2 separate regions of the Homo sapiens genome follow, and region 2 is linked to region 1. Evidence: fine-mapped expression QTL. A gene starts in region 1. The other region holds a variant in brackets. All regions are shown on one strand. Distances are between the middles of the regions. Region 1 holds the start of BIRC7 (baculoviral IAP repeat containing 7). Region 2 overlaps LOC124904952 (a long non-coding RNA gene).

What was found. PIP is the estimated chance that this variant, and not a neighbour inherited with it, causes the effect.
Region 2: its variant is the best candidate, but not a certain one, in a credible set for the expression of BIRC7 in whole blood (INTERVAL, PIP 0.79).

What each region holds. Positions count from the first base shown.
Region 1 is chr20:63,234,361-63,238,360 of GRCh38, forward strand. BIRC7 (baculoviral IAP repeat containing 7) reads left to right here and starts at 1,545. Exons shown (of 7, transcript NM_139317.3): 1 at 1,545-2,085; 2 at 3,543-3,642. The coding sequence starts at 1,737. RefSeq lists enhancers at 361-962, 1,310-1,429.
Region 2 is chr20:63,162,622-63,167,123 of GRCh38, forward strand. It overlaps LOC124904952 (a long non-coding RNA gene), which reads right to left. Exons shown (of 2, transcript XR_007067715.1): 2 at 229-4,502. Among named protein-coding and RNA genes, the nearest start is that of MIR124-3, 14 kb to the right of the region's middle. RefSeq lists a silencer at 4,447-4,502. The variant C/T (reference allele first, on the strand shown) is at 2,648.

The DNA.
Region 1 (4,000 bases):
GGACAGAGAGGGGGCGAAGGCGAGGTACCCTGAGATCATCCCAGAAAACACACTGGGAAGTTCTACCTTGTGTCTAGCCTAACTCCTTTGCTGGCCCTCAGGCCCTTTCCCGACAGCCCTCCCCTCCTATGCCCCTGAGCTTCCTGCTGCCTCTCCCTCTGCGCCCTGCAGCCCTGGCTTCTGGGCTCTATCCTCAGCAGGGCCTGCAGACACCCCAGAGGCCTTAAGAGCCTGGGAGGGGTTTCCAGCCACACCCTTCACTTTGATTTCTGCAGGAAACCAGGTGGCTCTGGGCCTTGCATAGGAAAGGGTTGGGGGTCTCGCTGGGGCCTGGCAACACTGGCCTGAGTATGACCAGAACAGTCACCAGAGGCCTCCTGGGAGGGCGGGTGCAGCCCCAGCCCCCGCCGTGAGTGGGGGTCGGGGGGCAGGTGTGAAAGTGTGGTGGGCAGCAGCTGGGTCTATGCGGCTCAGCAGTGGGAAGAGAACGGGCCAGGCTTCCAGGTGAGCTCAGGGACGGTTTTCACTGCAGCTAACCCTCTCCTGCCCACCTGCGCTCCCCGTGGCAACCAGCGGCCCTGCAGCGTGCGACTCCTCTTTATTCTTCCAAACTCTGTGAGCCTGCACGCTCCCATCCAGGACGGAACAGCAGGGGAGAGTGGCTGAAGGATGACAGGGGGCTTTTAGGGCCAGCCGGGTGGATGAGCTGGGTTTGCTGGGGTTGAGGGCTCAGTCGGGGGTTGGGGGGTGTCGAAGTCTGGGCCCCATCCAGCTGTCCTTTTTGTCCCGCCCAGGTGTCCCTGGGGTTCCTGTTCTGCCCCTGGCTTCTCTGGGGTTAAGTCCTCCTCCCTGTTCCCTCACTGTGGGGTTTGGCAGTGTGGCACAGTGTGGAGCTTGGACCGGCAGCCAGGGTCACAGCAGACCTCAGGAACTCCGATTCCAGTGCCAACACTGAGTACTCCTCTTTTGGGGGCATCAGAGCCTCTCCCTTGGCTACCTGGGGAGGCTGGTATGGAGGGAGGTGGAGGGAGATGGGGGAAGGGGGAGCGGGAGGTGAGGGCAGCTCGGGCCCTTCTTTTTGCTCTGATCTTCCTGGCCTGAGGACAAGAGCTGCTCCCAGACCTGCAGAGGCCCCTTGGGGCAGAGGGATGTTTCAGAGAACAGCCGGGTGACCTGCCTCCCTGCTCTGCGTGACGCAGCCCTAGGCCCCTGTGAGGCTAGAGTCACCCCCGCAAGGTGGGAGGTCACGGCCCCTGCCTGCACAGGCAGCACAGCTCACATGTCCTTCCTTGAGCCTTCTCTGCTTCCGGAGGCTGCCCTGGGCGCCTGACCTTGGAGCCATCATCTCCAGCTCCCCAACCCCTCCCCCACAGCCCTGGGGCAGACACCAGCCTGGGGAGGGGTCTCCATGCTCAGTTCCTTCCCGTCTTGTTCAGAGAGACGTGGCCTGCCCACGTGCAGTCAGCGGCATCCGCAACCCTGCCAGGGGCCCCGTGACACGCCCCCGCTGCACAGAGCATGTGACCCCAGAGGCCACCCTGGCCACTTCCAGAAAGCTGTGGGCCCTGGGATACTCCCCTCCCAGGGTGTCTGGTGGCAGGCCTGTGCCTATCCCTGCTGTCCCCAGGGTGGGCCCCGGGGGTCAGGAGCTCCAGAAGGGCCAGCTGGGCATATTCTGAGATTGGCCATCAGCCCCCATTTCTGCTGCAAACCTGGTCAGAGCCAGTGTTCCCTCCATGGGACCTAAAGACAGTGCCAAGTGCCTGCACCGTGGACCACAGCCGAGCCACTGGGCAGCCGGTGATGGTCCCACGCAGGAGCGCTGTGGACCCCGCTCTCTGGGCAGCCCTGTCCTAGGCCTGGACACCTGCAGAGCCTGGGACCACGTGGATGGGCAGATCCTGGGCCAGCTGCGGCCCCTGACAGAGGAGGAAGAGGAGGAGGGCGCCGGGGCCACCTTGTCCAGGGGGCCTGCCTTCCCCGGCATGGGCTCTGAGGAGTTGCGTCTGGCCTCCTTCTATGACTGGCCGCTGACTGCTGAGGTGCCACCCGAGCTGCTGGCTGCTGCCGGCTTCTTCCACACAGGTCAGTCCCGGGCGGGGGGGCCTTCCTGCCGTGGGCCTGGGCACGATTCTGGACCCTTCCAGCCCAGGGCTCTGCCTCCTCCGTAGCATCCATCCCCCAACAGGAAGGGTCTGGCCTGATGACGGAGCAGTGGTCCTGCAAGCCCCTCCAGTGCCCATGGGCTCGTGCCTGACACCCTCCCCCGGAGTCTCTGCTGGCTGAGTGTTTCAGACCGTGGGATGTGAGGAGGGGCTGCCTCTGGCCACAGTCTGAGGGTCTCAGCTGTGGAGGCCGCCAGCTTGGTGCACAAGTACCCCTTTGTGATAGAAGTGGGTGGGGCTGACATTGCCTGGGGCCCTCACCTTCCCCGCTGCTGTTCTGCACAGGGAGAGGAGATGTTTAAAGAACAGGATCAGGGTGACCAAGGCAGGCAGTGGTCAGCCAGAAGGTCCTGGATGCTCAGCCTGTGGGGAATTTCTCCAGGCCCCAACCTGCAGCTACTGTCTGGTCTTCCCCAACTGAATCAAGTCCCCGGAGTACCTATCCTAGTCTTGGCCCGGGCCTGCTCCTCTGCCCTACAGCTGCAGACCATGTGGTCAGACCTGAGTTCAGGTCCCAGCTCTGCCACTTCCTGGCTGAAGGACAGGGCAGCAGGGCCCACCGAGGGCTTTACAAATACTGGCACAGCCATGGTCATTGTCAGCAGTGGGCTCTGGCGGGGCACCATCCTGGTAAGGCTGGACCAACTTAAGACAGCTGGTCGGGGGGACAGTGGCTGGGACAGTCAGAAGCCGTGGCGTGAAGGGGCAGGCCCAGCTCACCCACCTCCCTGGAAGTCCAAGGCTCAGGAGGCAAAGGCCAGGCAAGAGGCATGGCAGGTGCAGAGCCGGGGTCTTTGGGGCTGGTAGAGGTCCAGTGCCCGATGCAGCCCAAACCTGTGATGTCAGTGGCAGGTGACGTATCGCATGGATGCCGATGAGGGGACGGGGTCGCCAGGAGGTAGAGAGATGACGGGTCCCCCACCCCCAAAGGGAGGCATGAGTTCCTAAAAGCAAGCCTGGCCCCAGACTGGCCTTCTAGGGCAGCCTCCCTTCTTCTTCTCACTGGGAATCCATCTTGGGGAAGCAGAGACCTGGGGAGGGGCCCTTCTGGCTCCTGAAGCCCCAGGGCTATAGATGTACCAAGCCCTGGGGGGCCCCCACTGCTCACTCTGGGAACAATGCAAATGCCAGCTCAGTCCTTTCCTGAACATTCTCGCCCATCCTGGCCGGCACCCCAGTCACCCTTGTCCCCTTTTCACCTTTGATGCTAATGAGGTACAAGTGACATCCCCCACCAAGCCCCCTGCCCACCCCCTCCTCCTTCTTGCCACCTGGGAGCTCCCCTCCAGCTGAAGCTCTCATAGCCTTGGAAGGACACACCGGGGGCCCGGGGACTGGGTGGGACTTGGCTGGGGCCAGCATCTCTCCGCACCCCAGGCCATCAGGACAAGGTGAGGTGCTTCTTCTGCTATGGGGGCCTGCAGAGCTGGAAGCGCGGGGACGACCCCTGGACGGAGCATGCCAAGTGGTTCCCCAGGTACCGGCTGCCCCTGCGGGGCCCCGGGTCTGATCATGGGTAGGGGGTGGGCCCCCAACGGCTCTGTCGACCCAACACCAGGCCTGCTTTGCCTCCCTGGCCCCACAGGGCACTGGGGAGGCCCTTCTGTGGGAGGTGCTTCTGGCCGGCAGGTACCCACTTTTCCTGTGAGGGCCCCTTTTCGGAAGGGCTGCTGGGGGCAGAAATGCCTCTCCCATGGGACTACCCTGAAGCCCCATGGAGGCGTCTCCACAGCAGCCCTCCTCGCCCATGCCCACGGGCACTGCAGGGTGGCGGGAGGAGGGGGCCCAACCCTGACCCCCGGGGATCCAAGGGCTTGAAGCAGACAGTGGGGGCC
Region 2 (4,502 bases), 71 kb before region 1:
CAGATTCAGGGCCTCCCGCTGCCCCAGAGGACCTCTACATTCATCAACCCTTGACGTGGTTTTCAATTAGCGTGGAGGAACCAGGGTTTATCGCTCTTCTCCGTCACTCCATTTATATTTAATGCATTTATTGCCCACATTCTATATCAGGAACAACTGCCTAGAGGCTGCCCATCCCCAGGGAGCAGGGTTTTATTTTCCTTTCCTCGCAATCGATCAGAGATTAAGTTGCTGTGTAGCTTTTTATTGGAGACACACATTTGCTGTGTTTAACAGGAAACCAGAGAAGGAAGCTCAGCGTGGGCCATAAATGATTTTGCTTCCATTGATCAAAGAAAAGACTGCCCACATCAGTCATCATCACCCAATGCACTCTCTGAGGGCACCCTATATATGCTCAGGCACACACATGCACACGGGCACACACTATCCAAGAGGAGAGAGAGCCTTGAGATGGACTCAATGGCTCCTGGACACTACCCTCGGCTCCCCCACAGCCTCCTAGTGGCTTCACCAGGGGTGGACATCCAGACTTTGTCACAGCTGAAAGCCCCACCTGGCCTGTGAGGGAGCATCTGCAGCCCCGGACAGCTGCCCTGAAGTTGGCCCTGTGCAGAATGGTAGACCCTTTGGACCCACATTGGTCCATGGAATGGCAGAAGCCTGTTGTCCTTCCGCTGGCTGGGGCCTGAGCATCAAAGTCATCTTTGCTTCAGAATCAAGGAACCTGGGAGGGCTGAAAGCCAACCCTCCATCCCACCATGCTGATGGCGGCCACGGCTCCCCAGTGACTCAGGTTTGGGGATCCTGGTTGGTGATAATGAAGTGAGCAGCACAGGATGCCCTGCCAGGGCCAGGGGTCTATGCCCCCATGTCCCCTACCCCTGAGCAGGTGAGCTGGTACCGAGACAGGCAGCAGGTGCACTCCCAAGTCTTTGAGACGCTGCTGGCAGGAAGTGTTCCCTTCCGGATCTGTCCTCTCACGCACATGAGTGCGCACACACACACACAGGCACTTGCCATGGCACAGAGACATGTTCCACCAGAAGCCTGTGGACTACTCGCTTGGGCTTTAGGGGAGGAAAAGGGAAAAGGGAGGAATTGCTAGGCAACCAGCCAGGGGTTGCTATGGCATTTTCAAGAGAGCGGCTGGGCCAATCAAGGCTGACTGCAGGCAGGCGGAGGCGGGAGCCACCATGTCACAGCAGCTCAGACAGAGGGGAGCACACTGCTGCACAGGCCTGGGGAGGGCTGGCGCCTCATGAATATGCATCAGGCTGATTGAGGCAAAGTCAATTAACGACTTGACGGCTTGATTTCCCCTGGATTCTACTCTTCTCCTTTAACCATTTGGCTGACACAGGGCAGGCTCCCCGCTTTCCTGCTGGCCCCGGAGTTTTCTAACAGGTCCAATTTGCTTTCCTAATCCTGACCTGGCCCAGGGGTCCTGGCATTGCTTGGTGCTGTTTCTACTGAAATCTTCTGCCACCTATGCAGGCAGCCAGGTCGCTGGTCCCACAGTGGGTCCCTTGGTGCCCTGGCAAGGCCTGAATTCCTACCTGGGACCAGGCACAGTGCAGCAGCTCCTGCAGGAGATGGTCCAGTTACCCCCCTTGGACAGTTACCAACTAGCGACCACAGGCCTGGCCGACACACATCTGGGCAATGACCTCACAACCCCTGGGAGCATCTAGGCACAACCAGTTTTGTGGGTGGCGGTTGGAGAAAGCTGGGGGCCAGCCCAGGGCAGGATCTCCTTCCTGGGCTCTGCAGCAGTTTCTCATCTACTGCAGTGGGGTTCTGGCCAGAGCAGTCAGAAAGCATGAAGGAGGCACTGCTCGCTTCCTCCACGTGACTCCTGGGGTGCAAGCTGGGGCAGGGACCCCGGCTCTGCCAGAACCCCCAGGGGGCTAGCAGGGTCTTTGCTGGATTATATTTCTCCTTCATTTCATTGTTCTCCCCAGTGAATTCTGGGGATTCTGAGAATTCCATTTTGCCCTGAATCATACGCAGCTCTTTTGACAGCTTCAGAAGTGGACGTCCTGTTGTGTGCAGCGGGGAGAATGTCAACCCTATGATTAACGCCCCACATGGTGGTGGGAAGAGGCTGGGATGCCTCAAGTCCCAGGCCCAGAGGATGGTGGGCCTCACAAAACTTGGGTGCAGGGTGTTGCAGAGGTCCGTGCAAGAAGGGACCCCGAAGCTGGAAGCTAACCGCCACTGGCTTCTCAGGAAGTCCCCTTGACCAGAACCCAGTCCCAGACATATGAATCAGTAGCCAAAGAGGGCCACAAACTCTGGGTGCTGGCCCCGTGCCTGGCTCTGGGGGCAGAGACACACGGGCCCTTAGGGCTGAGAACTCAGGTGGAGGGGTCTGGGGTGGGAGGGTTAGTGGCAAGGAATGCACGGGAAGAACACAGTCAGCGGCCATGGACCTGGATCCTGTTCACGCACCTCAGGCCCACACGGTGGGCAGGACGGGTTAGAGCCGCCACCTGGGTCCAATCGGCCGGGTGGGGGCAGCCCAGGAAGGTGTTCCCAGGAGCAGACCCCAGGTTCCCTGTTGCAGCCCATCCCGTGGCCCGCAGGCTGCCTAATCTCCCTGCTGCAGCTCCCATTTGCTTGGCCTGCAGAAGGTTTTCAACCA[C/T]AGCCGAGCAAGGTCCTTAGGCACCTTCAAGGCTGAGACATTCGCCCCTGATCCACTGACTGTGGGCTCTCGGGAGAGCGGCCACACCCCTCTCACCATCAACAGTCACCTGGGCCTGGCCCTCATGGGAGACAGACTCGGCCAGCACCTCCCACTGCCCCCTAGTTGGGAGGAACCCCACTCTCACCTGGGGCTCCCGTCTGCAAGCTCCAGGTGGTAGGACCGACCTGGGTCACTCTCGAACCCCACACTCAGCTTGTGGCCCCCACACATGCTCACCCACCCATCGCCGCAACCGTTTAAAGAGCAAGGGCCCACACCGCACACTCAGAGCAGAGGCGGCCTTCCGAAGAGAGGGCGGGCACACATGGAAGCCACTCTCTTCAGCACTGAACTGAAAGACCCGGGCTGCCCTGAGCTTGGGATGCGGGAGGCACCTGGACAAGCAGGGAGGGCAGAGCCACTCACAGAGCTCAGGGCCAAGCTCATGGCCAGGGACAACTTCTCTGGGTCCTGCTGCCCCGAATCCTCCATTAGGCCTACAATGGACAAGGGAGGCATCACCCTTGAACCCAGCTTTTGAGAGAGCCCCACTCAAGGAAGGATGAGAGCGAGCACCTCCTGTCCCTCCCCGGCCCCAAAGCCCTCGAGCTGCCCCTTCTGCCCAACACCTGTGGTGCCCCTGCACTCAGTAGGTGCTTCATGTATGCTCCATGGACAGGGAAGTGAACACCTGGGCATCCGCACAAGGAGGTGGCACGCACTTATATTGGGATGAGGGACGTGTACTTCCACCAGAGGCCGGGGCTGCCCATCGGCCAGCATTTCCCAAAGTGTATCCTGGGTCGCACCTCGAAGTTGCTCTGAAGAAAGACCAGGGCCTCCTCCTGGAAGCCGGTGGCTCCTGGGTCTTCACTGCTATTGTTCCCTCCACATGGGAGGGTGGGGGCTGCCACCATGTCATGCACAGGGTGCACCCTCAGACAGCATGCACCCCAGGGCACACGGCAAACGGCAGAGCTGGCCTCCACCAGGGCTGTGCGGGGCTGCACTAGATCCAGCTTTCCGGGGCTCCAGGGGGTTCCTCACCAGCTCCTCTGAACACGCTACAGGCCCAGTTGACTGTCACTTTCACTGTTAGGGAGCATGAGGCGTTAGAATCAATCCTGTGACACCACTGTGTTGTCAGGAACGGGCCGTGCCAAGGGGCACCACTAGGTCAGGCCTCAAGGTCTCAGCTCCAGGATGCCTCACCCAGAGCAAGACCCAGGCTGTCTGCAGGACAAAGACGTCGGAAGGAAGAAGAGGGAGAAGCCAGGAAGGTGGAGGTCTCTGAGAAGATGTGGTGACACCAGGGCCCAAGGGCTCCCCAGCTTATGGTGGAGGGCACTGCCTGTCTTGGTGTCCATGAAACTTTGGATGAGGAACAGCAGGAGGACAGGACCCAGGCAGGAGCTTCCAGCTCAGGGAACGACACGCCAGGTGGAAAGAACGGAGCCCCGGACGCCGAGGACGGGAACAGGATCACGGGCACCTGGATGCACCAGGAGGGCGAGAGAATCAGGAGGGGAAAGGAGGAAGAAGGCCTTCAGTTCAGGAGGAGAAGGGCCTTGCAATGCAGAGACCTCGCAGACGCGCCGTCGGCCTGTGGCCAAGGTCAACACAAATGTGCACGGCCTGGGCTGTGGCATGGAGGCCTTCATCTCTCTGCTCTTCTCCCAGAGACAAATTCGCTACAGGACATCCAACAGGGCACCCGGCCACTCCCCTGGAGGCCCAGGTCACCATGCACAGGGCCGGTGAGACCACGGGGACAGCCTCCCGGTCTTTCCTGCAGGGGAAGACTGGGAATCGG